3 separate regions of the Homo sapiens genome follow, and regions 1 and 3 are each linked to region 2. Evidence: fine-mapped expression QTL. A gene starts in region 2. Each other region holds a variant in brackets. All regions are shown on one strand. Distances are between the middles of the regions. Region 1 overlaps QSER1 (glutamine and serine rich 1). Region 2 holds the start of QSER1 (glutamine and serine rich 1). Region 3 overlaps QSER1 (glutamine and serine rich 1).

Evidence for each region.
Region 1: its variant is fine-mapped to the expression of QSER1 in whole blood (INTERVAL, PIP above 0.99). The same link has a PIP of 0.9 or more in T cells.
Region 3: its variant is fine-mapped to the expression of QSER1 in monocytes (Quach 2016, PIP 0.91).

Annotation. Positions count from the first base shown.
Region 1 is chr11:32,961,399-32,972,475 of GRCh38, forward strand. QSER1 (glutamine and serine rich 1) reads left to right here. Exons shown (of 13, transcript NM_001076786.3): 9 at 4,902-5,039; 10 at 7,648-7,745. The region is part of intron 2 of LOC105376615 (a long non-coding RNA gene); the gene reads right to left. Among named protein-coding and RNA genes, the nearest start is that of DEPDC7, 49 kb to the right of the region's middle. The variant CTGTTAGTTATATGTT/C (reference allele first, on the strand shown) is at 5,103.
Region 2 is chr11:32,886,104-32,897,180 of GRCh38, forward strand. QSER1 (glutamine and serine rich 1) reads left to right here and starts at 6,708. Exons shown (of 13, transcript NM_001076786.3): 1 at 6,708-7,231. The coding sequence starts at 7,023. RefSeq lists an enhancer at 5,059-5,633 and silencers at 6,381-7,000, 7,081-7,480.
Region 3 is chr11:32,945,027-32,956,103 of GRCh38, forward strand. It overlaps QSER1 (glutamine and serine rich 1), which reads left to right. Exons shown (of 13, transcript NM_001076786.3): 5 at 8,831-9,153; 6 at 10,270-10,386; 7 at 10,962-11,077. Among named protein-coding and RNA genes, the nearest start is that of QSER1, 58 kb to the left of the region's middle. RefSeq lists a silencer at 1,932-2,082. The variant A/AT (reference allele first, on the strand shown) is at 6,812.

The sequences.
Region 1 (11,077 bases), 75 kb after region 2:
CATGTGAAAATATTAGTTAGCTCAGTGATATAGATCTTCCAATAATTAATTTTTTTCACACTTTAAAACACTGTGGTTAAATATAAATTTGCCTTTTTAACCATTTTTAAGTGTACAATTTATTAGCATTATTTACATTCACACTGTTGTATAACCCTCACCTATATTTCCAAAACTTTTATCATCCCAAACAGAAACTGTAACCATTAAGCAACAACTACTTATTCTCTTTTTTCTCTAGCTACTGGTAACCTCTAATCTGTTTTTCCTCCAGCTACTGGTAACCTCTAACCTATTTTTTGTATTTGTGATTTTGCCCATTCTAAATATCTCATATAGGTGGAATTATACAATATTTTTCCTTCTGTGTCTGGCTTCTTTCACTTAGCAAAATGTTTTCTAGGTTCATCCATGTAAAAGCATATATCATAACTTCATTCCTTTTTATGGCTAAGTAATATTCCATTGTATGTTTACACCACATTTTATTGATGGTATTTGGGTTATTTCCTCCTTTTGGCTAACTGAATAATTGGTGTAATGAACATTGGCATACAAGTATCTAAGTTCCTATTTTCAATTTTGGAGGCATAGACCTGAAGCAGAATTGTTACTATTGTCACATAATAATCCTATGTTTAGCCTTTAGAGGAACCATCAAACTGTTTTCCACATGGTTACACCATTTTATATTCCCACCAGGAAAGCATGACGGTTCCAATTTTTCCACATCCTTTGCTAACACTTGTTATTTTCTGTTTGTGTGTGCGTCTTTTTAAAGTCATCCTAGCAAGTGTGAAGTGGTATCTCATTGTGGTTTCAGTTTGAATTTTTCTAGTGACTAATGATGTTGAGCATTTTTTCCATGTCCTGAGCATTTTTTCTATGTCCTTATTGGCCATTTGTATATCTTCTTTGGAGAAATGTCTATTCAGATCCTTTGCCCATTTTAAACTGGGTTATTTGTCTTTTTGTTGTTAAGTTGTAGGAGTTTTTTAATATATTCTGGATATTAAACCCTTAATCAGATACATAATTTGAAAATGTTTCCTCCCATTTTGTAGGTTGTCTTTTTCACTTTCTTGATAATATCCTTTGATGCACAAAAGTTTTAAATTTGGATGAAGCCCAATTTACTTATTTTTTCTTTTGTTACTCAGCTTTTGTTCACATAGAATCCATTGCCAAATCCAAGGACATATTTACTCCTACATTTTCTTCTAAGAGTTTTATGGTTCTAGCTCTTAAGGTCAGATATTTCATTTTACACTATCAAAAAATAGCACTCATCAATTCTATGAATGATCTCATTAATGAAGTCTTTACAAATTGGGAAGCTCAGACTCACAGTGGGGATAGAAGATGTCCAGAACTCTAATTTTCACTTGAAATCTCAAATTTTATCATTGGCAACAAATACCATCAGTTGTTTTCCTTGAATGAGCAGATTCTCTTAATTTATTTTTAAGAATAAATTAAGGTCTGCCAAATACCCAAGTCTGGATAGGCATAGTGTATCTGTCAGTCATTCTTTCAAATAAAAATCTTGTTTTCTTGGGGGAAAGAATGGCTAGTTTATCTTGTAACTCACACAACTGTATGGGTGCTCCTCCTGGTCATACCCATTATATTTATGCAGAAGTGCTTTATGTGTACCTGCTATTTCATCACACAGAATATTAAAAAGACATCTATTCAAGAATAGAAATTTCATAAAATTAATAATTACTTCTTCGTCAAGGACTATTAATTTTTATTTTGTTTTATCTTTTTTTGAGACAAGGTCTCACTCTGTCACCCAGGCTGGAGTGCAGTGGTACAAACAAGGCTCACTGCAACCTCAATATCCCAGGCTCATGTGATCCTCTCACCTCAGCCTCCTGGGTATCTGGGACTACAGGCGCTAATTTTTTTGTATTTTTTAGTAGAGACAAGGTTTTTCCATGTTGCCCAGGCTCTGTTTGTTTGTTTGTTTGAGACGGAGTCTCGCACTATCGTCCAGGCTGGAGTGCAGTGGCGCGATCTCGGCTCACTGCACCGCCTCCCAGGTTCAAGCGATTCTCCTGCCTCAGCCTCCCGAGTAGCTGGGATTACAGGCGCCCGCCATCATGCCTGGCTACTTTTTTGTATTTTTAGTAGAGATGGGGTTTCACTATGTTGGCCAGGTTGGTCTTGAATGCTTGACTTCGTGATCCACCCGCCTCGGCCTCCCAAAATGCTGGGATTACGTGCATGAGCCACCGCATCCAGCCTTGCCCAGGCTCTTTTTAAATTTTGTATATTTAGAGAGAGGTCTCACTCTGTCACCCAGGCTGGAGTGCATGGTGTAATCATAATTCACTGTAACCTCAAACTTCTGGCACAAGCAATCTTCTCACCTCGGTCCCCCAAGTAGCTAGGACTGACTACAGGTATGCACCACCATGCCCAGCTAATTTTAAAGTTTTTTGTAGAGACTGGGTCTTACTATGTTGCCCAAGCTAGTTTTAAACTCCTGGCCTCAAGCCATTGTCCTGCTTCAGCCTTCCAGAGTGCTGGGATTATAGGCATGAGTCACCTCACCTGGCCCTAAGACTGTTCTGGTTGTTAATTAAGAGATGGGGTCTTATTCTATCACCAGCAGGAGTAGAGTGGCACCTTTTTAGCTCACTGCAGCCTTGAACTCCTGGGCTCAAACAGTCCTCCTACTTCAGGCCCCCAAGCAGCTAGTACTACAGGCGCATGCCACCACACCTAGCTAACTTAAAATTTTTTTTTGTAGAGACAGGATCTCACTATATTGCCTGGGCTGGTCTTGAACTCCTGACCTCAAGCAATCTTCCCACTTTGGCCTCCCAAAGTGCTGGTATTATAGGTGTGAGCCACCATGCCCAGCCCCTAGGACTATTCCTAAGTGAAACTTTTTCCCCCTCCAAATACATGGTAGTGAGTGACATGACAAAGTCATGCAAAGTATATTACTGTTAGTACAGTTTGTTGTCATTGCCTTGATTCGTGGGGTAAGGCACCATCAATTTTACCCAGTAGTAGTTTTGCAAATGGCAATGCAGTGAAGAAAGTACATAGTATCTTAATATTATCATGAAAACAGTTTTGATATCAGAGACCACCAAAAGGGTCTTGGGGTCCCCCCTGGGGTACAGTTACTTTAACAGCTGCTATTTAAAATACATACACCTACTATAGGCCAGGCACGGTGGCTTACAGCTAATCTCAGCACTTTCAGAGGCTGAGACAGGAGGATCACTTGAGGCTGAGAGTTCAAGACCAGCCTGGGCAACATAGTGAAACCCTATCTCTAAGAAAAAAAAAAAACACCATATATATATATATATATATATACACACACACACACACACACACACACACACACACACACACACATACACACACATAAACGCACACTATATACCCACAACATTAAAAATATTTTAAAAACTGCTATTTAAGGGTGTGACTTGATTATATATTTGAATACAAAAAGTCAAAATTGAAACAAACTTTTTTTTTTTAGATGGAGTCTTGCTATATTGACCAGGCTGGTCTTGAACTCCCAGGCTCAAACAATCCTCCCACCTCAGCCTCCCAAGTAGCTGGGACTACAGGTGTGCACCACTGCACCCAACAAGTTAATGTCATAGTTCTTTCCATTGGATTTGAATGAAATTTTCTCTGTGCACAGGCTGTGTTTACATTAAAATGATTTTTTTCTTTTTTTCTTTTTCTTTATGAGACAGGGTCTTTACTCTGTTTCCCATGCTTGAGTGCAGTGGCGCAGTCACAGTTCTCTGCAGTCTCAACCTCCGGGACTCAAGCAATCCTCCCGCCTCAGCCTCTTGAGTAGCTGGGAATAGTGGTACATGCCACCACACACGTGGCTAATTTATATTTTTTTTAATTGAAACGATGTCCCACTATGTTGCCCAAGCTGGTCTCAAACTCCTGGGCTCAAGCAGTCCTCCCACCTTGGCCTCCCAAAGTGTTGGGATTACAGGCACGTGCCACTGCACCTGCCATACTTTAAACATTTTTAATACATCCTAGGCAAGAATTTTATAGTAATTTATGTCTAGGAATAAAAAGGAAATCTATGTATTACTCATACATTGGATGTCATACAATTTCTTTACTACTAAACAGAGAAACCATCAAGACTACAGTAGCACCACCTAGCAGCAGATGTCTGTGGTGGGATCCAGCAGAAGACAAATAGTTTCTTACCCAGTCTACTTTTTCTGGTGTTGGGCTTCAGAATCACCTAGGAAGGGCCAAGCGTGGTGGCTCACGCCTGTAATCCCAACACTTTGGTAGGCTGAGGCAGGCAGATCACCTGAGGTCAGGAGTTCAAGACCAGCCTGGCCAACATGGTGAAACCCCCTCTCTACTAAAAAAATTAGCCAGGCATGGTGGTGTGTACCTATAATCCCAGCTACTCGGGAGGTTGAGGCAGGAGAATTGCTTGAACCTAGGAGGCGGAGGTTGCAGTGAGCCAAGATGGCGCCATTGTACTCCAGCCTGGGCAACAAGAGTGAAACTCTGTCTCAAAACACACACACACACACACACACACACACACACACACACACACGAATCACCTAGGAAGCTTTTTAAGAGCATAATACTTAAGCTTCATCACCCTACCACGACCACCACCACTACCAAAGATTCTGTTTTAGGAAGTCCAGCAATCTGGTTTTTGTTCTATTGTTAACAAAGCTCTTCAGTCATTGTCATGTGCAAACCAGCTTTGAGAACCTCAGACCTTTTAAAGGTAAGGTGAGAAAGTCTTGAATTTGAAGAAATTGTATCTGCAATCTGCTTCTAGGGTCTCGTTATAGAGAAAAGTGTTTTTAAAATTGTCAGGAAGGAAAATTTAATATTTAACCCTTTCTCCCTCCCAGAATTTGAACCTCCCGCTCCCTTTGTCACTCGCTTTTTGAACACAAGAGCAATGAAGGAAACCTTTAAGAGCTACATGGAATTGCTTGTTAGCATTGCCTTGGACCCTGACACAATGCAAGCCTTAGAGAAGAGCAATGGTACAGTCTTCTAAGTAGTACTTCCTTGGTAGTACTTCCTGGAATTAAAAAAAGAAATCTTGT[CTGTTAGTTATATGTT/C]TATATGTGACTTGTGTAATATATACCTATAAATTGTCAGTTAAATATATAGCATCTTAATTCCATAAAATGGTCATATCTTTTCATGCATTCTCTGAATATTTGAACTTTTATTGCTTTCTACTCATGGGAAAATTGTATAGCTTCTAACCAGTTTCTTCCAATTCTAGAATCTAATCATCCTCATAAATAGTTTACTAAGTGTTAGTATTACATGAAAGGTCTGTATGTCAGTATATTTTATTTTCCAATAATTGGAAAGATGAACCAGATAAAAGTGGCATAAAGATTAAAATCATATACTTGTATCTTTTGTAAAAGATACATCATAGCAATTATTTTCTAATCAGTTAAAATTAGTATTAAACCAGTAAATGCACTGGGTTATACCAATTAATATTATTCCTTTTAGTTATTTGAGAAATCTCCATACTGTTTTCCATAGCAGTTGCACTAATTTACATTCTCACCAGCAGTCCCAGTACTGAGTATCTACATAAAGGAAAATAAATAATACCCAAGAGACACCTGCACATGTGTTTATTGCAGCACAGTTCACAACTGTAAAGATATGGAAAGTGCCCATCAGCCGATGAGTGAATAAAGAAAATATAGTGAATACTATTCAGCCATAAAAAAGAGCAAAATAATGTCTTTTGCAGCAACTTGGGTGGAACTGGAGGTCATTATTCTAACTGAAGTAACTCAGGAATGGAGAACCAAATATCACATGTTCTCACTTATAAGTGGGAGCTAAGCTATAGGTACACAAAGGCAGCGTGGTATAATGGACATTGGAGACTCAGAAGGGGAGAGGGTGAGAAAGGGGTAAGGGATGAAAAACTACTTATGGGGTACAATGTACACTACTTGGGTGATGGATGCACTAAAATCCCAGACTTCACCACTATACAGCTCATCCATGTAACCCAAACCACCTGTACCCCTAAAGCTATTGAAATTTTTAAAAAGTTTTTTTTAAAGAAGAAAATAAAAGGTACAGTAAGAATATGGCATTATAGTCTTATGGAACCACCATTGTATATGTGGTCTGTCATTGTCAAAAATGTCATTATGCAGTGCATGACTATATACTGTTTTATTATGTTCACATACTTAGACATATATTCTAATTTAACCTTAAAACAACTTAGACAGCCATTTTGTGGATTAAGACAGGTTCAGAGAGGTTAAGTGACTTGCTTAAGGGCCCACAAACTTGAAACTGGCAGAGAAAGGATTAAAATTAAAGTCTTCTAATTTCTGGTCTAGTGCTTTTCTTACCACCTAATCAGAGACAGTAACCTGTATATCAGTCATTTTCAAGTAATTAGGAGCTGGAAGGGACTTTAGATATTACCTAGTCTGAAACATTTATTTTGTAAACTAAAGTTCAAAAGAGATTAAAGTTAAAGAACAGGTTAGAGGTTGAAGAACCATGATTAAAACTCAGCTAATCCCAGGTCAGCATTTTTGCTATTAAATGTTATATTCCTTGCATCATAAAATATGCTTCTCTTTGTAGTAGTCATTTCTGTATAGTTGTATTTTGAAAGATTTTTAAAAATTGCTTATCAGTGTTTTCTGATTTTTCTCTAAGGGGAGAAAATTTTTTAAGATTATTTTTAAATCACAAATGTTTAAAACTTACTTTTGTAGAATGTAAATACAGTATTAGAACAGATTGAATCACTAATAGAAAGACTATGTAAACAATCATTTTACTTAGCTGTGAAACTTGTGACCTGGATTCTGGGTTGTTGTTTTTTTTCAGAAGGTTATTAGAGGCAGTTAGTATTATAAAATATAATAAAGTACTATGCTGGTAAATTAAGAAAGAATCTAATAATCTAAAATGTTTAATGCTACACCAAAACTAATTATATTCTAAAAGTACTTTTCTTAATGGAGCTTAAAGTTCAGAGTGGTGACACTGAAAGCCAAAAGCTTTGAATAGGAATCTTTGTCATAATTTTACTCTCCCCTCTTTTTCTAAAATAACTATTTTGATTCATATTTTTGGTACTGGGTTTTGATCATTTTTCTTCCCCTACTTTTTCTTTGCTTCAAGTTAAAGTGACTTAATATCCCTTGGTCATACTCAGTGTTTTGTTAGATCAGTTTGTATTTTGTAATTGTTCAGATTGTTCAGAGGGTAAATGAGGTCTGGAGGAATTAGGCAGCTTGCCTATTCGTCACATAGCTGCCACATATCAGTTCTATTCAGTTAAAATCCAGTTCTAGTTTATCCAGCAGTTGTAGTTCAGCTAAAACTTAGAACTTTGGATCCTCATGTAGTGCTCATCCCATCATCATACTGAGCTGCCTCTTTCTCACTTGCTACTATAAACCTACTTTTCAAGTTAACCTTTGTTCAGAAAGCTTCATGTCCAATTTTTTTGCAATCAGTATTTTACATATGCCAATGAATTTAGTGTATTTTAATATATAAATGTTTTGAGAAAAAGTTGGATTTTTTTCAAAAATATTTATTGATAGTTTATCCTGTTAAATTATAATGTTGTTTCAGATGAGCTACTTTTACCTCATATGAAAAAAATAGATGGCATGCTAAATGATAACCGAAAGAGACTTCTTTTGAATCTTCATTTGGATCAATCATTCAAGGTATTTCCTTCTGATGACTTATTAGCAAAACTCAATGGCAGTCATAGTCTTAAGTATAATAGGAAGGAAATTTATGAAAATTATTCACTTACAACATTTTTCACCTAATGAAAATTTGGCTTTTATTCATTGTAAGTCCATTTAGTTTGTCTGCTTAGTGTTAATCACTTGCTTTTCTCCACTTAAATTTATTTTTTAGGCATTTATAGTTATCTATTATATCTTCTATAAAATAATTTCCAAATGTTCTTTTAACGCTTTTCAAAATTTTTACATTTTGTCTGTAATTAAAATTAGCTTTTCCTTAGCACAGTTATCAAAATTCACCGTACTTGCCTCATTTATTCAATATCAGAGGAAACGCTGATTTTTATAAGGGTAGGAAATGTATATAATTCTATATGTTAATATATCTTGGCAATATAAGTTGGTTTTGGTGTTATCAGAAATATAGAAAAAGCTAATCTAAACTCAACTCAGATAATTTTTCATAGAAGCTAACTTGGTAGTTTAAAAATTTCTAGCTTTTTTTCTTTTCTTTTCTTTTTTTTTTTTTTTTGAGACAGAGTCTAGCTCTGTCATCCAGGCTACATTGCAGTGGCACAACCTTGGCTCGCTGCAACCTCTGCCTCCTGAGTTCAAGCAGTTCTTGTGCCTCAGCCTCCTGAGTAGCTGGGACTACAGGTGCCCACCACCACACCTGGCTAATTTTGGTATTTTTAGTAGAGACAGGATTTTACCATGTTGGCCAGTCTGGTCTCGAACTCCTGACCTCAGATGATCCGCCCACCTTGGCCTCCCAAAGTGTTGGGATTACAGGCGTGAGCCACTGCACCCGGCCGAGCTTTTTATTTCAGTTGGAGAAAAGGCATGCAAATTTATTAACGTGCACATGGGAGAGAATCACAGAATGATTACTCCGTAGCCTTTCTTATTCAAAGTATAATATCACATCAAGAATCATTTGGTTATATCTACCTTAGGGAACATTTTTTAATTGATGGTAACAATATTATACATTTGTATAACTTGTTCACATCCCTGTTTTATGTGAACTCCATGTAAAAGTGAGTATTGACTTCATTTCAATTAGGTGAAAACTGAGGCCATTAGATTGCATTCAAAATTAAATGACACAAAACTATCATAGTAGTCATGTATTCTTCACTGCCATGTATTCGCAGGAAGAAAAAAAATTTAGAAGCTAGTAAGAAATCCAGTACTAAGAATTTGGTCTCCTGACTCCTAGTCCAGTTTTTGTTTGTTCGTTTTTGTTTTTGAGATGGAGTCTTGTTCTTTCGCCGAGGCTGGAGTCTAGTGGTGTGATCTCAGCCCACTGCCATCTCCACCTCCTGAGTTCAAGAGATTCTCCTGCCTCAGCCTCCCAAGTAGCTGGGTCCACAAGCATGCACCACCACATCTGGCTAATTTTTGTGTTTTCAGTAGAGACAGGGTTTCACCATGTTGGTCAGGCTGGTCTCGAACTCCTGACTTCAAGTGATCCGCCTACTTCCGCCTCCCAAAGTGCTGGGATTAATAGGCATGAGCCACGGCACCCAGCCCTAGCCCAGTGTTTTCTGCTTAACTGCTGCCTTTAAATAAATGAAATATTCTCTTGTGAAATACTATATTTTGTGGAGACAAGGGAACATTTTTAGATAGGTGTTTTCTAAAGATTTACTAAATCTTAAAAATTACCAGGTTTGGCTAATCACTGTTGAAATGTCAAACCAGTTCTCTAACAAGATTTCTAATTCTGTTATTAGTTATTAATTTTGATAATTGTCATATAAAGCAATTTGCTTTTTTTTTTTTTTTTTTTTTTTTGAGACAGACTCTCGCTCTGTCTCCTAGGCTGAAGTGCAGTGGCGCGATCTCCGCCCACTGCAACCTCCTCCTCTCCTGCCTCAGTCTCTGGAGTGGCTGGGATGGCCTGGCTAATTTTTGTATTTTTAGTAGAGACAGGATTTCACCATGTTGGCCAGGCTGGTCTTGAACTCCTGACTTCAAGTGATCTGCCTGCCTCTGCCTCCCAAAGTGCTGGGATTACAGGTGTAATCCATGCCCAGCCTTAGCAATTTGCATTTCAAAGCAAAATTACATAATATTAAGAGTTAGACTGATCTGAAGTAAAATATTACAAATAGTAGAGAAAGAAAGATTTTTCTGTTCTTTAGAAATAATTAGTGTGCTTTCCTATGTTGATCTTGGTGATGTTAGGAGTCCTGAAGCTTTTTCAAGGTAATGATGTTCTGCCTTTTTCTGAAATCTGTGTACTTCAGATCATCTTAAGCATTTTGTGGTCATTGGAAAGATTTAAATTTTCTTCTTTCATCTCCACTGACTTAGTGTGTGTTGTTTCCAAATTTAGAATCTTTAGACTTTAAATTCTATTTGTTGCAAATAATAATTCTGGATCCAAAAATTGTCAAGGTGCATGTTTTAAATAGAAAACACCAGAGTACATGATAAGTGCACAAATAATCTGAGAAAGGAACGAAGCTCGAACGTGATGGTAGCTCACTGTGGTAGAAAATGCCAAAAGTGTTATTGTTTCTATCAAATGAAATTTAGTGCCCTTCTACACTTATACTAAGAAAAATTTAGGTTGCCTGTTTTTAAAAAGGTACCGTTTTCGGGACTGGCGCGGTGGCTCACGCCTGAAATCCCAGCACTTTGGGAGGCCGAGGTGGGCGGATCATGAGGTCAGGAGATCGAGACCATCCTGGCTAACACAGAGAAACCCCATCTCTACTAAAAATACAAAAAATTAGCCGGGCGTGGTGTCAGGCGCCTGTAGTCCCAGCTACTCGGGAGGCTGAGGCAGGAGAATGGCGTGAACCCAGGAGGCAGAGCTTGCAGTGAGCCGAGATCACGCCACTGCACTCTAGCCTGGATGACAGAGCAAGACTCCATCTCAAAAAAAAAAAAAAACAAAACAGTACTGTTTTCAGGGCCCCAATACCAGGTGCTTGGAAACAATAGATGAGTTTGGAGAAGAGTGGCTTTAAAGGTTGTAACTGTTTATAAAACACTTGCGCTTATCGAATTTGGACTGCATTCTGAATCATAAATATAATAGGAGGACTTCAACATTTTTAGTGTCAAAATAATAAATGATGGTAGGAGCTCGATTTAATTTTTATAAAGTCATAATCAAACTAGTTAAATGTTGCCACAAGTATCATTCAGTTATTGTTTGTAGCTTTTCAGTCAGGCAGAATGATTTGCCAAGTAGGTAAGGGCATAAATAGGCCAGTGGCTTATTTATTTATTTATTTATTTATTTATTTATTTATTTATTTATTTAGAGATAGAGTCTCTCTCTGTCA
Region 2 (11,077 bases):
TGTTGGCCGGGGTGGTCTCGAACTCCTGACCTCAGGTGATCCGCCCGCCTCGGCCTCCCAAAGTGCTGAGGTTACAGGAGTGAGCCACTGCACCGGCCTCAGGAATTTACACAATATTCAAGTATCCACGAAATACTTATTGATTACAAAGTAAAATGTAGTAACTCTTTAGAGGAGAAATCTGGCAGTAACTCCTTTAACCAAGCCTATTTGGTTTGGAGTCAAATTGCTGATTTGAAGCTCCACTTGCATCATTGTGGTTTTTTGTTTGTTTTTTTGTTTGGAGACAGTCTCACTCTTGCCCAGGCTAGAGTGCAATGGCAACATCACAGCTCACTGTAACCTCTGCCTCCCAGGCTCAGGTAATCCTTCTGCTGCAGCCTCCCAAGTAGCTGGTATACAGGCACACGCCACCACACCCAGCTACTTGTTGTATTTTTTGTAGAGACAGGTTTTGCCATGTTGCCTTGGCTGGTCTCGAACTCATGGGCTCAATCAATCCGCCCACCTGGGCCTCCCCAAGTGCTGGGACTACACGCGTGAGCCACCAGGCCCTGCCTGCATCACTGTCTTATATTAGCTTGTACAATGTTGGGAAAGTTACTTAATTTCACTAAGCTTCAATTTCCTGTAAAACGGATTAATAATAAAAAATATCCACATCTTAAGGATCTTAGGAGGATTGTGACAATTCCACATAAAGCCCTTAGCACAGGACCTAAGACATACATTGTCAATATGTATCAGTTATTCTTATGAGAATCACTCTCACCTACAGGTTTAAATCTCCTGTAATCTATTTAGGGAGATAAAATGTCCTCTCAGTGAAAGACTTCATGACAAGGCCACAGCCTTGTCTTTCCAGTTCATACTTAAATTGTACTCCTTTCCCAGACCTCCTGGTTTCTAATCATTCAACCTTGCTTACTGCAGGCCCTTGATCAACGAAACCATTCATCAGTGCCCCAAAGTCCCTCCATATCCGTAGCTCAGAAAACTACCTCTCCGCACAAAATTGATGATCAAGTATGTTTCTTGAAGCTCTTTCAGGGACACCCCCTAGTGAGGCTGCAGCTTCCAGAGAAGCAGGGTTAAACAGCAGCTTTCCTGATTCCATTGCTGTCTCCCTGGAGGGGTATGGCAGACAACAATGAGCAGAGTCAAAAGATGATTGATAGGGTCAAGCCTCAGAGACAGAGAAAATTATAGTGGGACTTAGTTTCCTTCTAACTTTTTTTATTTTAATTTTTCTTTAGAAACAGAGTCTTGCTCTGTTGCCCAGCCTGGAGCATAGTGACATGATCATTCCTTACTGTAACCTCGAAATTCTGGGTTCAAGTGATCCTCCAGCCTTAGCCTTTGGAGTAGCTAGGACTGTGTCCGGAATTGGCGGGTTCTTGGTCTCACTGACTTCAAGAACGAAGCCACAGACCCTCGCAGTGAGTGTTACAGTTCTTAAACGGAGGGTGTCCGGAGTTTCTTCCTTCTGGTGGGTTCGTGGTCTGGATGGCTTCAGGAGTGAAGCTGCAGACCTTTGCGGTGAATGTTACAACTCTTAAGGCGGCGCGTCTGGAGTTCTTCGTTCCTCCCCGTAGGTTCGTGGTCTCCCTGGCTTCAGGAGTGAAGCTAGACCTTCACGGAGAGTGTTACAGCTGATAAAGGCAGTGTGGACCCAAAAAGTGACCAGCAGCAAGATTTGTTGCAAGGAACGAAAGAACACAGCTTCCACACCGTGGAAACGGATGCCAGCAGGTTGCCACTGTTGGCTCGGGCAGCCTGCTTTTATTCTCTTATCTGGCCCCACCCATATCCTGCTGATTGGTCCATTTTACAGAGAGCCGATTGGTCCACTTTACAGAGAGCTGATTGGTCCGTTTTGACAGGGTGCTGATTGGTGCATTTACAATCCCTGAGCTAGACACAAAAGTTCTCCACGTCCCCACTAGATGAGCTAGATACAGAGTGCCCATTGGTGTATTTACAATCCCTAAGCTAGACGTAAAGGTTCTCCAAGTCCCCACCAGACTCAGGAGCCCAGCTGGTTTCACCCAGTGGATCCCGCACCAGGCAGCAGGTGGAGCTGGCTGCCACTCCCACGCAGTGCTCCACACTCCTCAGCCCTTGGGCCTCCGATGGGACTGGGTGCCATGGAGCAGCGGGGCGGCGCTCATCGGGGAGGCTCCGCCCCACAGGAGCCCACAGCAGGGGGTAAGACTCAGGCATAGCAGGCTGCAGGTCCCGAGCCCTGCCCCCCGGGGGAGGCAGCTAAGGCCCGGCAAGAAATCGAGCACAGCAGCTGCTGGCCCAGGTGCTAAGCCCCTCACTGCCCAGGGCTGGCGGGGCTGGCTGGCAGCTCCGAGTGGGGGGCCCGCCGAGCCCACGCCTACCCAGAACAGGCACTGGCCCGCAAGCGCCCCGGACAGTCCCGGTTCCTGCCCCCGCCTCTCCCTCCACACCTCCCCTCAAGCTGAGGGAGCCGGCTCTGGCCTTGGCCAGCCCGGAAAGGGGCTCCCACAGTGCAGCAGTGGGCTGAAGGGCTCCTCAAGTGTGGCCAGAGTGGGCGCCAAGGCCTAGGAGGCGCCGAGAGCAAGCGAGGGCTGCCAGCACGCTGTCACCTCTCAGGACTACAGGTGCACCACCATGCCTGGCTAATTTTTATTTCCTTTCTGATGTTTTAATTTAATTTATGATGTTGACCTAAGAGATGGAAACCAGGGCTGCTCTGGCAAAGACAGGGCTTATAGTTTCCCTCAATGCCAGAAGAGAAGGGAAAAATTTAAAACCATATCTTCTTTCCCTGTTCAAATCACTTCTCACACACATATTCCTTGTATTCTCAGTGAAACCACAAACTTGACCTTCTTGGATCTTTCTTCTTGATGGTTGGTCTATTTATAACATAGGAATGTGTGGACTTACTGACTACATTTCTAGTTAGGCAACCCCAAATTCTGCATTTCCCAACAAGCTAATGAACAAGGCCACCTCAGTGAAGATGGGGTTTCCTGGGTCTCACCCCAACTGATTCCCTCCATCATCTTAAAGCAAGTCACTCAATACCAGGCCTCAGCTTCCTCAACTACAAAAGGAAGGCAATGAACTATGTACTCAATAGAACTACAATCTTTCTACCAGTTGAAATACTTATTTTCTTTTTTTTTTTTTTTTGAGAGGCAAAATCAATTACTTCCTTTTCAATTGTCCTCTGGTGCTTTATTCCAATTTCTATTATATTTAACACTATCCTATTGCATTACAATTAGTTGTGTGTCTGCCTCTTTTCCTCATAAATTACAGGTTCCATAAAGACAGGCGTTGTATTAAATTTACCCTCGTATTCACAGCATTTAGTATTATGCTTGGCACTGTATTAGGCTCTAAATACATATCTATTGAATGAATAAATATGTAAGCTACTTTAAAAATGCCCATTCAGGCTGGATGCGGTGGCTCATGCCTGTAATCCCAGCACTTTGGGAGGCTGAGGTGGGCATATCACGAGGTCAGGAGATCGAGACCATCCTGGCTAACACGACGAAACCTCGTCTCTACTAAAAATACAAAAAATTAGCTGGGCGTGGTGGCGGGCACCTGTAGTCCCAGCTACTCGGGAGGCTTAGGCAGGAGAATGGCGTAAAACCCAGGAGGCAGAGCTTGCAGTGAGCCGAAATCGCGCCACTGCACTCCAGCCTGGGCGACAGAGCAAGACGCTATCTAAGAAAAAAAAATGCCCATTCAGAAGTTCCAATTAGTCATTTACATATTCCTTTCCTTTCCCCCCCAAAAAAGAAAAACCAAAACACTCTATCTCAATTCTAAAATCGGGGCAAGATTTGAAAATTGATTAAATCAAAGGCAGTTTGGTTTTAAGATGAATTGGAGTAAATCCTACACTTAAGAAGGAATCTTCCAGCACTTTGGAAGGCTGAGGTGGGAGGATTGCTTGAGGCCAGGAGCTCAAGACCAGCCTTGGACACCATAGCGAGACCCTGTCTGAAAAAAAACAAAAAAAACTCTTTCCTTCTTCCTCACCTCCATCTCCCACTTCCTTCTGAGTTTATTGTCTAGAGTTAGTCATGCCTTAGAACATGCCCATGAACAATCTCCCCACATTTTCCACCCTAACTCCCATCCCATTAGAAAATCAATACGTATTTCACAGGTCGCGGTGGCTCACGCCTGTAATCCCAGAACTTTGGGAGGCTGAGGCAGGCGGATCATCTGAGGTCAAGAGTTCGAGACTAGCCTGGCCAAAATGGTGAAACCCGTCTCTACTAAAAATACAAAAAAATTAGCTGGGCGTGGTGGCATGCGCCTGTATTCCCAGCTACTCAGGAGGCTGAGGCAGGAGAATCGCTTGAATCCGGGAGGCGGAGGTTGCAGTGAGACGAGATCACCCCACTGCACTCAAGCCTGGGCGACAGAGCGAGACTGTCTGAAAAAACGAACAAACAAAAACACGGGACCAACAATGCTCATTCTAGAGTTTGACATTACCTAGATCAGACTTGAAGCAGCTTGGTTACGAATCATTTGAGAGATCCCGAAACGTTCACAGAGCTGGAAGTATATTTTCAGTAGGGAAGAAGACATTCTTCAGATAGTATCATCAAGTGTACAAAATTTTTAAAAGATTTATTTACATATATCAAAGCATCACATTGTACCCCATAAATGTATGCAATTATGATTTGTCAATTAAAAATAGTATTGATAAAAAATGTAATGATGTTATTTGTAGACATGTAACATTTGAAAATAAATATAATTGTACTGATTTAGAGTGAACTAAGGAAATTTCATTTAAATGGCAAAGGAACATATGGTGACAGAGTAATATTACTAAAAATACTCACTAGAATTTTCCCTTAATATCTTTCCCTGATTTATGTGACATAAACAAACTACATAATGGTGTGAGGGACTATAAAGGTTTTATTGCCACTTGTTTGGTATTGCCTGCGTAACTCACTCTGAGTGCCAGTTGTGGGTATCTCAAACTAAGTGTCATAAAACATTTATAGCATGCCACTCCATTTCCTATACTTTTCATAGAGACAAAACTTTAGCGCTCACAAAAGTACTTATAAATATAATAGCTAGTTGTGAAAACTTTTTAATTTAGATCCCACATTTCCAGTTTGCAGGAAGAAAAATAAATGTAATGAAGATTTACGTTACTTCTCTGCATGAACTCAGATTAGTTCGCAAATTCCTTTTCAAAGAAAAACCACTTTTCAAAGATATCCTCAGTAAATGCATTTTGTAATTAACATAAAATTGGCAAAGTCGCTGTGCCTACACGTTTGAATTCATGTGTAAATAACGACTACTCACTTCCTTGCTTCCCCACCCGGGGACCAGGCTCCAAGCATCACAGGTGCAGAAAGACTTGCAAAAAGGAATGAATAGGAACAAAAGGATGTAGGCGCCAGGAGGAAAACAGGATCTTCCAGAACAAAATTAATCTCGCAAGGCATAGCAGATCCAACACCAGATTATTACCAAAGTTTAAACTTTTTCAATGGTCATCAGAGATAGCGTATCAAGTTTATTAGGTCTTTCACTACGGCTGATTTGCTTAAACCTTTATGTTATGCTTATCTTGAGGGATAGATTTCTGTGCTAAGCACATAATAGGTGTTAAACCAATATTGATTTTTAAAAGGAGGTGGTCATTAAATAGAAATTTTACTGTTATTTTAACCTTTAAATTTATGGCCCAAGGGCCAAACGATGATTTGTACGATTCCCTAGTTTCAATACTTGTGAGTTATTACAAGAAATACAACTCTGCTATGCAACAGAAGAACCGCAAATAGTCATTAAATTACCGCACACCAAGCAGCTTGGAGATCAGATAGGAAATGTTTGGGGAGAGAGTCCTGCTGAAGTTCCAAGTCTCAAACAAAACCCCTCAACATCAGAGTGCATGGTGAGTTTAAATTTATTGTAATTAAAGTCATCCAGATGGTAGTTGGATTAATCAATGAAGAGGTGGTTATCTATCTTGGGATAGAAGATTCTGAAACCCAGAGCGAGAAAAATCCCCAAGGTGGGGGTGGGGACAGTTAATAAGAGCCCTTGGGAAAGGCCCTTTCAGCGAGGATTGGAAAATAATACGTTTGAATTTGAATCTCTTTGAATATAAATCTCCCCTAACAGCAGGAAAAGGGTCCTCTAGCCCAGCAAGCTTTGGGGAGGGAGTAAGCGGAACTGCAAAAGAGCTCGCTCAGCTGTTTCTGGATTGGGGCGCAGAGAAAGAAATCGCGATCAGGGAACTGAGTACTGGAGTCCCTCAAAATAACCCGAAGGGTCAAATAGTGAGCTCCAAGCAAAGCGTTGACCCGGCTACCCCTGAGCAGCGCCCTACGCTGGGTTCCACTCCACTTCCCCTCCCCCGCGCGGGGCGATAGCCAGGCGCGGTCCCTTCCCACGCGGGCCGCGGCGAGTGCGGACAGCTCCCTTCCGGGCTGCGGAAGGCGGGAAGTCTGCGGTTCGCGGGCTCCGGCTGGCGGGCGCCCCTCGGAGTCCCTGAAGTCGGCCGGGCCCCGCAGGACCCGCGCCTTCTCGGCCCCAACTGTCCCTCGCGAAGCGTCCTGCGGTGGCGGAGGCCTCGCGGCCGCCCGCCAGCCCCGCGAGCGGCAAGCGCGGGGCTCAGAGGGGAGGCGGGGCAAGGCCGCGGGGCGGAGGGGGGCGGGAGGTGCATCCTGGGAAATCCACCAACATGGGGCGCAGCGGCCGCCGCCGCCGCCGCCGTCGCCGCGAGTCCCGGCCGCGGGTGCCTCCGCTTCCCTGACGCCCAGCTGGGGCCTCGCCGCCCGCCGCGGCCCGGGTCTTTGCGGCCCAGACTCGCCAGCGCGCCCTTCTCCCGCCTGCTCGCCGGGGCCATGTGAGGGGGCAGCTCCCTCCACCGCCGCCGCCCCCTCTTCCTCCCCCGCCCCCTCTCCCTGCCCGCCCCCGTCACACGGAGCCCTGGAGGATCCCCCGCTGCTGCCCGCCCTCCCTACGCCACCCCCACGATGGACAGGAACTACGCGACCTCGGGCTTCACCGAGCCGCCGCCGCCGCCGCCGCCCGCGCCCCCCGCCGCCCCCGTCCCCGCCAGCGCCGCTGCGCAGCCCCCCGCCCCAGCCTGGGCGTACGAACCCCGAGCCGCCGCCGCCGCCGCCAGCAGCAGCTGCAGCAGTGGCAGCTGCAGTAGCGGCAGCAGCCCCAGCCTCAAGGCCAGGTAGGGAGGGTGGGCGGCGGGGTCGCGGTGGACCAGGAAAGGCCGGGGATGCGTTTGGGGCCTTCGCTCGGTTGCAGCGCCGCCCAGAGGTCTGGGCCGGGCGGGGAGCCCTCCGCTCGCCCTCGGCCAGCTCGGGGGAGGCGGCTGATGACTCCTACGGGGTGGTCGCGGGTAGGTGGGGGCGCCCGGTGCAGGATTCGCGCCTGGGGACGGCGGGTGAAGGAATAGCTGGGCGGGAGTCGTGGGGCTCCGTCACCTCTTGGGTCCTGGGCTCTCACATGGTGAAGTTTGGGCTCGTGGCTGAACTCGGGATCTGTGAGACCCAGGATTGGCGCCGGGGGTCCGAAGGGGGCGCCGGAGAGTTTGGGGCAGTGGCGATCCATTGTATTGGAACCTGGGTGGCCGACAATGCGGTCTTGGGGACTCCGGCGTGTGAGGGTTGCGGAGGCGGGAGAGGAAGAGTCGCGGAACCGCGTCCCGGAGACACTGGGGGGCCCGGGAGGGCTGGGCTACGGGAGAATCCCCGGGGCGCAGGGCAGAAGAGGGGGCCCGGCAGGGCGCGAACGCGGCTCCAGGGCCGGGTGACATATGTTTGCGCTGGTGGCCAAGATTTAGGCGATTTTTCTTCCACGCGTTCAAAGTTGCTCTTAGGTTTCCTCCCCTTTTAACAACAGCAGGAAGTAAGGAATCTTTCTTTGCCTTCTATGCCTCGGGGTGACTGAGAGTTGGGAAGAAATGGGGCGGGGGTTGGGGTGGGGGTAGTGAAGGCCGTAAAGGTTGAAGAACCAAAGCATGCTTCTCCATCTCGGCCTTTAAGGTCCGGGTGCATTATGTAGCGTGGGGTTCAAGAGTTCATCTTGCATGACCAAGGGAATCTAAAATTTTGACTCCTACTTGATATTTAAGCTCGCGGGAAATGTGTAGTAGTGCCACACTGTGAAACGGTCCCATTTGAATGATAACTGGAAGGCGTGGTCTGGTTTGGAGAATTGGTGAGCGGGGTGTTTTAAAGCCACCTCTCCCGAACAATACAGAATCTGGTAGGTGCAGCTTCTGATTACATGGACCAGGGAATCCTGGGTTGCTAATGACTTCATCCTCAGCTACCAACAGGAAGCTTCGTGGCTTTATGATCTCATCAGATTTCTTCATTATTTTTCACGACAGAAGTGAACTTTTGTTTTAAGTTTATACATTACCGTGTTCCAGGTTATCTTCTTTGTTTTTACGAAAGTTCTACGTTCATGATTGAGCAAATAAGTGTGAAGGGTAGCTGGTCTTTGTCTTAGATTGTCCATTGGGACGATTGTGAAAGAATGAGAAAAATTTGCTTCAAGAATAGGAATATAAGCTTTCTCAGAAAATTTTAGGCCCTTTGTTTTCAAGACTTGGGAGTTAACAAAAATAATGTGATGTGCCAATTTGGAGCTAAGTAATTAAATGCTGAAACCTTTCAGAAATAGCCATAATTTTGTATTACATACAAGTAAGCCATTTTAAGGAGTTTCATGAAAGACGTTTGGCACTTCACCCATTATTTCTTGCTGATGGTAATTTGACTATCTTTTTCAAGTAGCTTTTTGCATTGACTAGGATAATTTACAAATGAAAATTACTTTCTCATCATTGAACAGCATGATAGGTATTTGTGCCGCATTTTTTATCTTTTAAATGAAAAATATTTATTAGGTAAATGGAACTGAAATACTACCTAGTTACTTCTTTTAGTAGAATACTTCTGAGGCAAGAAACTAAAATCTACTTGTCATATTTTCCAAATGTTATTTATCAGAGTAACACGAAATGACTTCCCAAACACACTTGAAAACAGTAAGTAGATTCACTTGGCACACATAATCTAAAGGAGATTTATTTTCTGTTTACTAGAAGTTATTGAATCTTAAATATTACCCCTCATGCCCTCTCCCCCTGCTTTTTTAAAAAATAAGCGGTGGGGGGAATCAGCTAAAATACAGCATAGAAAATGCAGGTTTACCCCCCTCCCCCGCCAGCCTGCTTTGTTAACATCTTGTATTGGGATCAGGCCATCTGTACAGAGTTACACTTCTGAATTATACCTCATTTTATTCCTCAAACTGTGCAAATATTCCCTTTGATTTCAGTTATATCAAAAATGGCAAATCTGAAATATGCCTTGTAAGTCTAAATATTCTACACTTCAGAAGCTTATTTATATTTTTATACCATTTTAAAAAGCTTTTTCATAATGCACATATCAGTTGAATGTTTTTGTTCCCCTTTGTGGCAGTTTCTTGTGAAGGTGCAAATGAGTACTAGTTGTGATGATGTAATATGGATACTTATCCATAAAGAATTAGCCTGTCTGTCACCTTGTTTCCTGTAACCTATTCAGAAGCTGACAGATGGTAATGACATTCAGTTGTTGCCGACAGGGATCTAACATCCTACTTTATGCCTTCTTGGTCTTGAAATACATCATTTTCATCAGTTGATGGGAAGGTACATGATAAACAGCTTTTCATGAGTTTGAAACAATACTTTTTTGAATACAACAGCTCTGTTAGTTATTAGGTAGTTTTATTGTACTAACAGTGGAAAAATAGAGTGGGAAACTCCAGCATTATACCTTAAATGGGGCTTATAGAAAGATTTTTGAATATTTCTCAGAGTACTTGCTAGGTACTTGGAAAGTACAGGGATAAGGACTGGCCATATAAATCTTCATTTATTTATGCTAATTTCAGTTCGTTTTAGGAACTAAATGAATGAACATGTCCTTTGCTGAACACCACGCAGTTGGAAATACCTTTTGGGGTGCAGTTTTGGATGTTGTAAATACCTTTGCATAGCTTGGGAAATAAGAAGGTCATCAAGAGTCTGCAGATCCATTGCCGCATTCTGTACTTGATACTTATATCTTGGTCACAACAGGAAGAGGCAGGCTGTTTTATGGTGATAATCGATGTGTTCGTATTTGAATATGCACCAGAAAGTAAGGGAATGGAAATATTTTGTATTTAAATAGGTTTATTTATTTTATTTTATTTTATTTTTTGCGATGGAGTTTCGCTCTTGTTGCCCAGGCTGGAGTGCAACGGCGTGATCTCAGCTCTCTGCACCCTCTGCCTCACGGGTTCAAGCAGTTCTCCTGCCTCAGCCTCCTGAGTAGCTAACCACACCTGGCTAATTTTTGTATTTTTAGTAGAGATGGGGCTTCACCGCATTGGCCAGGCTGGTAATTTTTGTATTTTTAGTAGAGATGGGGTTTCACTACATTGGCCAGGCTGGTCTTGAACTCCTGACCTCAGGTGATCCGCCCATTTTGGCCTCCCAAAGTGCTGGGATTACAGGTGTGAGCCACCGTGCCTGGCCTGTTTTTTGCCTTTCTAACTTGAAATAACTTTTGGCACCAGTTTTTAGAATTCCTAATGCATACTTTTTTTTAGTATGAGGTATAATGAGTATGATAAATACTCCTCTGAAAAACCAAAGTAATGATTAGCTCTTCTAAAACCTGTCAGTTTCTATATGATGGACATTTGTTTGATACATTTCAAATCTAGAGTTTTCCTCAAGGTTTTTGGGAAAAGGCCTTATAGATCATAATTTGTAAGGCGTAAGAACAATCTCAAGTTAATGAAAGGTTATTTCAGACAAACTTCCACTGTTAGAGTTCAGAAAGTTTTTTCCCATGGAAACCGTGTTGTAAGTAATAGTAGCTGTCATTTACATCACTAGCAACTAATTTGTGCTAGCTGTTTTAAGTCACACGTACATTCATTTATCAAAATTCATTTATCATGAATAAATGAATACATACATTCATTTATCAAAATTCATTATAAAAATCCTTTGAGGTAGGCA
Region 3 (11,077 bases), 59 kb after region 2:
AAGTCTGTTTTATCAGAGACTAGGATTGCAACCCCTGCCTTTTTTTGTTTTCCATTTGCTTGGTAGATCTTCCTCCATCCTTTTATTTTGAGCCTATGTGTGTCTCTGCACGTGAGATGGGTTTCCTGAATACAGCACACTGATGGGTCTTGACTCTTTATCCAATTTGCCAGTCTGTGTCTTTTAATTGGAGCATTTAGTCCATTTACATTTAAAGTTAATAGTGTTATGTGTGAATTTGATCCTGTCATTATGATGTTAGCTGGTTATTTTGCTCGTTAGTTGATTCAGTTTCTTCCCAGTCTCGATGGTCTTTACATTTTGGCATGATTTTGCAGCGGCTGGTACCGGTTGTTCCTTTCCATGTTTAGCGCTTCCTTCAGGAGCTCTTTTAGGGCAGGCCTGGTGGTGACAAAAGCTCTCAGCATTTGCTTGTCTGTAAAGTATTTTATTTCTCCTTCACTTATGAAGCTTAGTTTGGCTGGGTATGAAATTCTGGGTTGAAAATTCTTTTCTTTAAGAATGTTGAATATTGGCCCCCACTCTCTTCTGGCCTGTAGAGTTTCTGCCGAGAGATCCGCTGTTAGTCTGATGGGCTTCCCTTTGAGGGTAACCCGACCTTTCTCTCTGGCTGCCCTTAACATTTTTTCCTTCATTTCAACTTTGGTGAATCTGACAATTATGTGTCTTGGAGTTGCTCTTCTCGAGGAGTATCTTTGTGGCGTTCTCTGTATTTCCTGAATCTGAACGTTGGCCTGCCTTGCTAGATTGGGGAAATTCTCCTGGATAATACCCTGCAGAGTGTTTTCCAACTTGGTTCCATTCTCCCCATCACTTTCAGGTACACCAATCAGACGTAGATTTGGTCTTTTCACATAGTCCCATATTTCTTGGAGGCTTTGCTCGTTTCTTTTTATTCTTTTTTCTCTAAACTTTCCTTCTCGCTTCATTTCATTCATTTCATCTTCCATTGCTGATACCCTTTCTTCCAGTTGATCGCATCGGCTCCTGAGGCTTCTGCATTCTTCACGTAGTTCTCGAGCCTTGGTTTTCAGCTCCGTCAGCTCCTTTAAGCACTTCTCTGTATTGGTTATTCTAGTTATACATTCTTCTAAATTTTCTTCAAAGTTTTCAACTTCTTTGCCTTTGGTTTGAATGTCCTCCCGTAGCTCAGAGTAATTTGATCGTCTGAAGCCTTCTTCTCTCAGCTCGTCAAAGTCATTCTCTGTCCAGCTTTGTTCCCTTACTGGTGAGGAGCAGCGTTCCTTTGGAGGAGGAGAGACGCTCTGATTTTTAGAGTTTCCAGTTTTTCTGTTCTGCTTTTTCCCCATCTTTGTGGTTTTATCTACTTTTGGTCTTTGATGATGGTGATGTATAGATGGGTTTTTGGTGTGGATGTCCTTTCTGTTTGTTAGTTTTCCTTCTAACAGACAGGACCCTCAGCTGCAGGTCTGTTGGAGTACCCTGCAGTGTGAGGTGTCAGGGTGCCCCTGCTGGAGGGTGCCTCCCAGTTAGGCTGCTCGGGGTTCAGTGACCCACTTTAGGAGGCAGTCTGCCCGTTCTCAGATCTCCAGCTGCGTACTGGGAGAACCACTGCTCTCTTCAAAGCTGTCAGACAGGGACATTTAAGTCTGCAGAGGTTACTGCTGTCTTTTTGTTTGTCTGTACCCTGCCCCCAGAGGTGGAGCCTACAGAGGCAGGCAGGCCTCCTTGAGCTGTGGTGGGCTCCACCCAGTTCAAGCTTCCCGGCTGCTTTGTTTACCTAAGCAAGCCTGGGCAATGGTGGGCGCCCCTACCCCAGCCTCGCTGCCACCTTGCAGTTTGATCTCAGACTGCTGTGCTAGCAATCAGCGAGACTCCGTGGGGTAGGACCCTCCAAGCCAGGTGCGGGATATAATCTCGTGGTGCGCCGTTTTTTAAGCCCGTCAGAAAAGTGCAGTATTCGGGTGGGAGTGACCTGATTTTCCAGGTGCCGTCCGTCACCCCTTTCTTTGATTAGGAAAGGGAACTCCCTGACCCCTTGCGCTTCCCGAGTGAGGCAATGCCTCACCCTGCTTTGGCTCGCGCACGGTGCGTGCACCCACTGACCTGCACCCACTGTCTGGCACTCCCTAGTGAGATGAACCCGGTACCTCAGATGGAAATGCAGAAATCACCCGTCTTCTGCGTCGCTCAGGCTGGGAGCTGTAGACCGGAGCTGTTCCTATTCGGCCATCTTGGCTCCTCCCCCTGTTTTAATTATTAATTTGACTCTTTTGTATTGTGTTCAGGGAATATGTTCACATTTTGAAATTTATGGAAATTTTGTTAGTAGTTTGGTAAATGGTCCATTTTTATAGATATTCCACTTTTTATAAATACTAAGTACTAATAGATTTCATTAATAGTGTTCAAATCCTTTATATCTTTTTTATTTAATAAATGATATTAGGTTATTTAAGAAAATGTTTATATGTGTGTATATTTTGGAGATAAATGACATGTATGGAATTTGGCTTAAAATAGCCCAGCAAATATAAAAGGGAGTGATGGATAGATTAAACAGATGAACCAAAATGTTTGTGCTTGTTACAGCTGGGTTATAGTAGGGTTTGTATTCTCTACTTTTGTGTAGTCTAAAATTTTATAATAATAAAAAGTTTTAAAACTCCTCTCTACCCTTATTTGTTTTTAGATTGCTTGATCTGTTGATTCCTGAGAAAGGTGTGTTAAAGTTTTCCATTATGTTATATTATTTTTCTAATACTGTTTACTTGATATTTTGAACCCATGTAATTCAGTGCATAAAATTTTACTACAGTTAAATTTCCTTTTATCATAATAAAATCTCTTTTTCCCACTTAATGATTTCTGTTTTTAATACTGTCATACTAATGTTGTTATTAGCATTTTTTTAGTATTTTTCCATATCTATGTTTTCTTTTGGAACATTTTTTCTTGCGAAATACAACCCACATGTGAAAATCAAACATGCATAAAGAAAAATACAAAACAAAACTTCCACAGATTTGAAAATGCAGACATTATTCAAGCAGTATTCCCTGGGTACAGTGCAGCCGTTTCTAGAAAGAACAAAGAAAGGAACAAAGAAAAACTCACCCTTCCAAATAACTCTTGGCTTAAAAAGGAAACCAAAACTGAAATGACAAACTAATTGGAATGGACAGTGGAGCACTGTATACTGAAACTAATAGGATGTGGCCAGAGTGTGATGTGAAGAAGCAAATTTATAGTGTTAAATGTCATTCACTGGAAAGCAAGAAAATATCGAAATTAATTGAGTATTAAATTAAACTCACTCTTAACCTCTAGAGCAAATCACTAACTGACTTGGATGGTAATCACTTCCTTACTTAATATAATTTTACCATCTATGTATGCATCTCTAAAGACTATACTTTTTAGCTGGGGAAACATAGTGAGAGCCTATCTCTACAAAAAACAAAAAAACAGTTAGGTGGGCATGTTGGCATGTGCCTGTCGTCCTAGCTAATGTGGAGCCTGAGGCAGGAGTATCGGGTGAGCCCAGGAGTTTGAGGGGGCAGTGAGCTGGGATCACACCATTGCACTCCAGCCTGGGTGACAGAGCTAGATGCTATCTCTTAAAAAAACAAAACAAAACTATTCTTTGGTTTGTTTTAAAACTTCCTACAAAGGGCATATAAATAAAGTATTGATGAACTTTCCCTCTACTAGAAGTTATACATTCTTTTTTTAAAAAAATTTTGCTTTTTTCATAGAAATTTTCAAACATATACAAAAGTACAGAGATTGGCATAATGAAACCCAATTCTGGGGGCATCATCCATTTCAATAATCATGTGGTCCATCTTGCTTGATTCATACCTTTATCTAGGTGCCCACTCCCTGATTATTTTGGTGAAATATTTCTTTTCTTTTCCTGGTTACAATAGAAATTACAACATGCACTTTTAGCTTCTCCAAATCTGTCAATATCTTCCTTTTTCTGGATAATACAGATTTTTTAACACTGGAGCTCCATTTAATCCCCTCCTGACATAAATGTTATTGTTACTACATATTTAATTCTATCATCATTAATAGTCTTTTAAATAGTCATTTGTTTACATTTACTTATATATTTCCCAGTTTACCCTTCATTCATTCTTGTATCTCATAGCTTCTCCTTGGGATTATCTGACTAAAGCAGACTAAATACTAAAATACCTTTAGTATTTCCTTTTCTCAGAGTCTGCTGCAGCATCTCTGTTTTTGTTCACAGATAACTATGTGACTTGTTTTGACATATAACTTAGAAAGTATTTGTAGAAGTCAGTGACATTGCTATAACAAAGTCACTTTTATTCCTTAATTTACCCATTATTTATATGAACATGGTTTCTAAGTTTTTATATCAATAAAAGTGAAGGACAAATAAAATTGGTTGTAAAATCTATCTCAATAAGTACTGTCCATGTATCCATGTATGAATAATTTTTAAGTGCCATGTCCAACAGAAGCATGAGTTTTACATTTAATACTTGTCAAAATGTGAAAAGATAGTATAATTTGGATCAACTATGCAATTGTATAATGTTAGAAATGTTTAACATTTTGAGCCTTCAGTTACAAGACAAATCAGTTTCCATTTACATACATATTTTTGTGACAGAAAAGTATGACAATGTAACTATAGCATTATAGAAATATGTTAGGATAAAATAACATAGTATGGGCTCCTAACGTGATTAGAATATTCATCTGTATTTCCTCAACAGGTCTTTTCCCTTGAGTGGGAAATGTATAAATATATGAGAATAGCTTTAATTTGGGACAAGAACAGGTAGGCTGGCTGGTAGCAACAAGGAGGTCTTTATTTGTCAAGCACTTTAGTTCATGGATTTCCCCTGCCAGTCTGCATTTCCACTTTTTCTGTGTTGGAAGTCTGGATTTGCCTCAGGCCCTGCTTTGGTTTTCTCTCAGCTCCTCCACCACTCTAGGCAAGTAGAATTCACTCTCTTCAGAGTACAGCTTTTGCATTTTAGCCTATGGTCAAACACCCCTTCTGCCTACAGCTTAGTACAATTAAGGGGATCACTGGCCTTCCCTTTTTTTTTCTTTTTTTGAGAGGGAGTCTTGCTCTGTCACCCAGACTGGAGTGCAGTGTTGCAATCTAGGCTCACTGCAACCTCCGCCTCCCAGGTTCAAGCGATTCTCCTGCCTCAGCCTCCCGAGTAGCTGAGATTACAGACCCCTGCCATCACACCTGGCTAATTTTTGTATTTTAGTGGACACGGGGTTTTACCATGCTGGCCAGGCTGGTCTTGAACTCCTGACCTTAAGTGATCTGCCCACCCAGGCCTCCCAAAGTGCTGGGATTACAGGCATGAACCACTGTGCCTGGCCTGGCTTTCCCATTTTTATTTACTTATTGTTGTATATGTGATTATTTTAGTTCATCAGTATTATTCAGACTTACCACTGGAATTTTACATGTTATTTATATTTGTTCCTTAGCCCAAAGTTCCTCTATCAGCTGTGGTATTTGAAGTATTTTTTAATAGTTTTATTGAATTATAATTCATATACAATAACATCCACCCATTTAAAGTGTACAGTTCAGTGGTTCATAGACTTGTGCAGCATTTGTATCATTCAAAGAGAAACCCTGTATCCATTAAGGAGTCCATTCCCATACCCACACCCAGCTATAGGCAACCACAAATCTTTCTCTCTCTGTAGATTTGCCTATTTGGGATGTTTCATGTAAAGGGAATCCTATAATAAGTGACCTTCTGTAACTGGCTTCTTTCATTTAGCATAATGTTTTCAGGGTTTATCTATGCTGTAGCATGTATCAGTATCTGATTCCTTTTTATTCCCTAATAATATGGATATACCACATTTTGTATATTCAGTTATCCATTGATAGAGTTTTTGGCTATCATGAATAAATCTGTAAACATTCATTTACAGATTTTTGTATGGATGTTTATTATCTCTAGGGTACACATCCAGAAGTGGAATTCCTCAGTCATATATCTGCATGGTTAATAGAGGAATGGCCAAACTATTTTCCAATGTGGCTGTACCATTTTACATTTTCATCAGTGATCTATAAGGATTCCATTCATTCCACTTTCTTGCTAACATGTGTTAATGTCTATATTTTTAATTATAATCATCCTAGTAGGATGGTTAACTATTCTTTCTCTATTGAATGGTTCTGGCACCTTTTTTGAAAATCATTTGCTCATAAGTATAGGAGTTTCTTTCTGAACTTTCATTCTATTCCATTGATTTGTATCTATGTCTGTGTCAGTATCACAGTCTGTATTTCTATAGCTTTATGGTAAGTTTTGAAATTGAGAAATGTCAGTCTGCCAACTTTGTTCTTTTTTCAAGATCATTTTGGCTATTCTGGGTCCCTTTCACTTCCATATGAATTTTAGGAACAATTTGTCAATTTTTGTAAAAAATGAAGCTCAGATTTTTATAGGAATTGGGTTGATTCCATAGGTCAGTTTGGGGAACACTGCCATCTTAACAGTGTTGCGTCTTCTCATCCATCAACATGGGATGTTTTTCCAGTTATACAGATCTTCTATGATTTCTTTGAACAGTGTTTTTATAGTTTTTACAATGTAAGTTTGCAGTTCTTTTGTTAAATTTATTCCTAAATATTACTTTTGATGCTATTAGAAATGGAATTGTGTTCTTAATTTTATTTTTTGGGTTGTTCACTGCAAATGTATAGAAATACATGTGATTTTTATATATTGGTCTTGTACCCTGCAATCTTGCTGAACTCATTTTTTAGTTCTAATAGTTTTTTAGTATATTCCTTGGG[A/AT]TTTTTTTTTTTTTTTTGAGATGGAATTTCGCTCTTGTTGCCCAGGATGGAGTGCAGTGGTGAGATCGTGGCTCACTGCAACCTCCGCCTCCCAGATTCAAGCAATTCTCCTGCCTCAGCCTCCCAAGTTGCTGGGATTGCAGGTGTGTACCACCATGCCTGGCTAATTTTTTTGTATTTTTAGTAGAGATGGGGTTTCACCATGTTGGCCAGGCTGGTCTCGAACTCCTGATCTCAGGTCATCCGCCCGCCTCAGCCTCCCAAAGTGCTGGGATTACAGGCGTGAGCCACTGCGCCCAGGCCTTGGGATTTTCTATATACAAGATCATATCATCTGCAAATATAGCTTTGCTTCTTCAGATATCCTTCTTAGGAGGAAAGCATATACAGTTTTCACCACTAAGTATGATGTTAGTTACTGATTTTTTCTAAATGTCCTCTGTAAAGCTGGGGAAGTTCCCAGGCTGTTGAATGTTTTTATCATAAAAGGGCATTACATTTTGTCAGATGCTTTTTCTTCACCTATTGAAATGATCCTGTGCTCCTATGCTGTTTTCTATTAACACAGTGTATTACATTGATTTTCAGGTGTTAAATTAACTTTGCATTCCTAAGATAAATCCCACGTGGTCATATTGTATGATTCTTTTTGTATGTTGGTGGATTTGCTAGTATTTCATTGTGGGTTTTTGTATTTATATACTAAGGGATATTAGTCTATAGTTTTCTCATGCTGTTTTTGTCTGGTTTTGGTATTGGAATAATACTGGCCTCACAGAATGAGTTGGGAAGTGTTTCCTCCTATTGTTTGGAGTTTATAAAAGATTGATATCTTCTTTAATTGTTGATAGAATTATCCAGTGAAGCCATATGGGCCTGTGCTTTTCTTTGTGGGATGTTTTAAAATTACTTTTTTTTTTTTTACTTTGTATTGGGGTATTCAGATTTTCTATTTCTTCCCAAGTCTTTTTTTTTTTTTTTTTCCTTGAGACAGAGTCTCTTTTGCCCACGCTGTAGTGCAGTGGCACAGTCTTGGCTCACTGCAATCTCTGCCTCCCAGGTTCAAGCTATTCTCCTGCCTCACCCTCCTGAGTAGCGGGGATTAAAGGCGCGCACCACCACGCCCAGCTAATTTTTGTATTTTTAGTAGAGACAGGGTTTCACCATGTTGGTCAGGCTGGTCTCAAACTCCTGACCTCGTGATCTGCCCGCCTTGGCCTCCCAAAGTGCTGGGATTACAGGTGTGAGCCACCGTGCATGGCCCCAATCTTTTTTAGTATTTTGTGTCTTTCTAGGAATTTATCCATTTCATCTTAAGTTATTTAATTTGTTGGCATACAGTTTTTCATAGTATTACTTTATAATCATTTTAATTTTGATAGCTTCTAGTGCTGTTTCAGAATGTTTTGGGTTTTTTTTTTTCCCACATGTATTTGGTTTTTCATCTTCTATGAAGAGTCACAGTTTTGGTTGGCCGACCCTTCCTTATCTTCTATCACTTTCATGTCTTTATTTTTATTATTATTATTTTTTTAAGTAGGGTCTTGTTCTGTCACCCAGGCTGGAGTGCAGTGGCACTATCATAGCTCACTGTAACCCTTGAACTCCTGGGCCCAAGCAATTTTCGCATCTCATCCTCCTGATTAGCTGAGACTACAGGCACACAACACTATGCTCGGCTAATTTTTTATTTTTTTAATAGGGCTGGGACTACAGGTGTGAGCCACTGTACCCAGCCTCTTCTTTTAAAAATAATTTTGCTCTACTTACATGGAATTGGCAGCGGGAGGATAGGTAGATAGTTGCAGGTTTGCAGTCTACTTGTCATCTAGACTTAATTCTCACATCTTTGATTCTTGGAAATTAACATCTGTTGTCTAATTTCTTCCTGTGGTTTTGTTTCAACCAGTTTGATTACAAAATAATCAAGTCTTTCTTTTTAAACTGTTTTGAGTTTTACACAAAACAAGTGTTTAAATATTTGTAATACTGATTTGCATTTGCTTGGTTTTGTTTCAGAAGCCCTACAGGTGGCAACTACTAGCCCAACTGCCAATACTACTGGTACTGCTACTACTTCCTCAACCACTGTGGGTGCAGTTAAGCAAGAACCTCTCCACTCTACTTCATATGCAGTAAATATTCTGGAAAATATAAGCTCTTCAGAATCCTCAAAGCCCATTGAACTTGATGGTCTTCCTTCAGACCAGTTTGCAAAAGGACAGGACACTGTTGCCATAGAAGGTTTTACAGATGAGGAGGACACAGAAAGCGGAGGAGAAGGCCAATACAGAGAGCGTGATGAATTTGTGGTAAAGATAGAAGACATAGAGACTTTTAAGGTGATGTCAGTGTTCACCAGTGTAAAGGTCATAGTTTAGTTAGTGTGCCTGCGATAGCCTTCATTATGACTTCAATAGCATGCATCTACTTTGAATTATGGGAAGTTTTATGCATTATAAGTGTTTGATAAAATCAAAATATTAAGAGTAGATGTCAGATATCATTGAAGATAATTTTAACCTTAACTTAGTTGTACGTATTTCTGTACAAATGTAGTCAGTTGCATTTCAGTATTAGTAATTATAGTAGTTTTAAAATGTTGACTTTTTTCAAGGTTCCCAATTCATTATTAGTAGTTTGGAGAAAATCGTTATTTATATAATTTAAAAGTTTAAACAAAAATAACAGAGAACTATCATGTAAAAGTAGAATTAGATTTAATTTCATAATTTCAAGTTGTATAACCATGAAGAGAATGTAATAATTTTATGTAAGAAAGTTGTAGCTGTGTTTAAAATAACATATTTTGGGGTTTCTGTTTGCTTGCTTTGCTTTTTTGCCTTTTTATGTATTTTTTAAAATAGAGATGGGATCATGCTATGTTGACCAGGCTGGTCTCAAACTCTTGGCCTCAAGCAGTCCTCCCATCTTGGCCTCCCAAAGTGCTGGGATTACAGGCATGTAATCCTCATGCAGTGGCATGAGCCACTGCATACAGCCACTTTTGCCTTTTTAAAAAACATGGGAATGACGTTAAAAAGTGCAGTGAAGAATCCAACATTCAAGTGTCTGTATTCTCACTATTCACAGTTAACTACTTTTAATATTTTAATGTATTTGTTTATGGTCTTTTAAGATATGTATATATACATAGTTATAAAATTGCATATGTAACATAGGACAGTGTCATTAGCAGAAAACTTTCCAATAGTTTTAGCTGCACAAATGGGTAATGGGCTACTTTGTGTGCTAATGAACTCCCTATTTCTGGAATAATTTAAGCAGAGACTGAATAACCTAACCAGCTTATAAGAATTATTGCAGAATATCAGATAGAGAGGTGAGATAAAAGGTTGAGCTAGGGTAGGCCTTTCAGATTCCTTTCATCTCTAATATTCTAAGATCTAAAATATGTTGCTGTGTTTTGTAAGTATCATTAATTCTGGTTATTACAGGAGGCTTTAAAAACAGGAAAAGAACCTCCAGCTATTTGGAAAGTACAAAAAGCTTTATTACAGAAATTTGTTCCTGAAATTCGAGATGGTCAAAGAGAATTTGCTGCTACAAATAGTGTAAGTAAAATGCATGTTTACATTAGCCTTATTTTGACAGTGGTCCTGAGAAAAACAATGATTTAAATATAGAAGTATTTTATATTGAATATTTTTGATATAAAGTAGCATATAATTTGAACTAGAATATTGATGCTCTTTGATAGTCTAATATAAAAATAAAGTCATTTGTTAAATATCAGCTATTTAAAATTAAATGACCTTGTACTATTGTTTAACTTTTTTTTTTAATAAAGGAAAGGGATTAATGTTAGCCTATGAAGAGTTCAGATTGACTCAGAGGCTCCTTTATATTGATTATTCTACTAGTCAAATATCCTGATTTACCAGAAGACTGATGGAAGTTATTCTGTCATACTTAATGTAGCTGGAAGTAAGAATATGCCAAATGAGATTGCTTGTACATATGAAATCAATAATGAGCCTGGGATCAGTTTTTGAGGGTAAAATTAGCCTGGCCAGAGCTGCATTTTAGAAAACTTGAAGGTTGGCTATGGGATAGTCAATTGAACAAACAAAGTAGCATTTGTATCTAGATTGTTCAATTATGTAACTCAAAGTGTTTCCTTCCTCAGTATCTTGGATATTTTGGAGATGCAAAGAGTAAATACAAAAGAATATATGTGAAGTTCATTGAAAATGCAAACAAGAAGGAATATGTCAGAGTGTGTTCTAAAAAGCCAAGAAATAA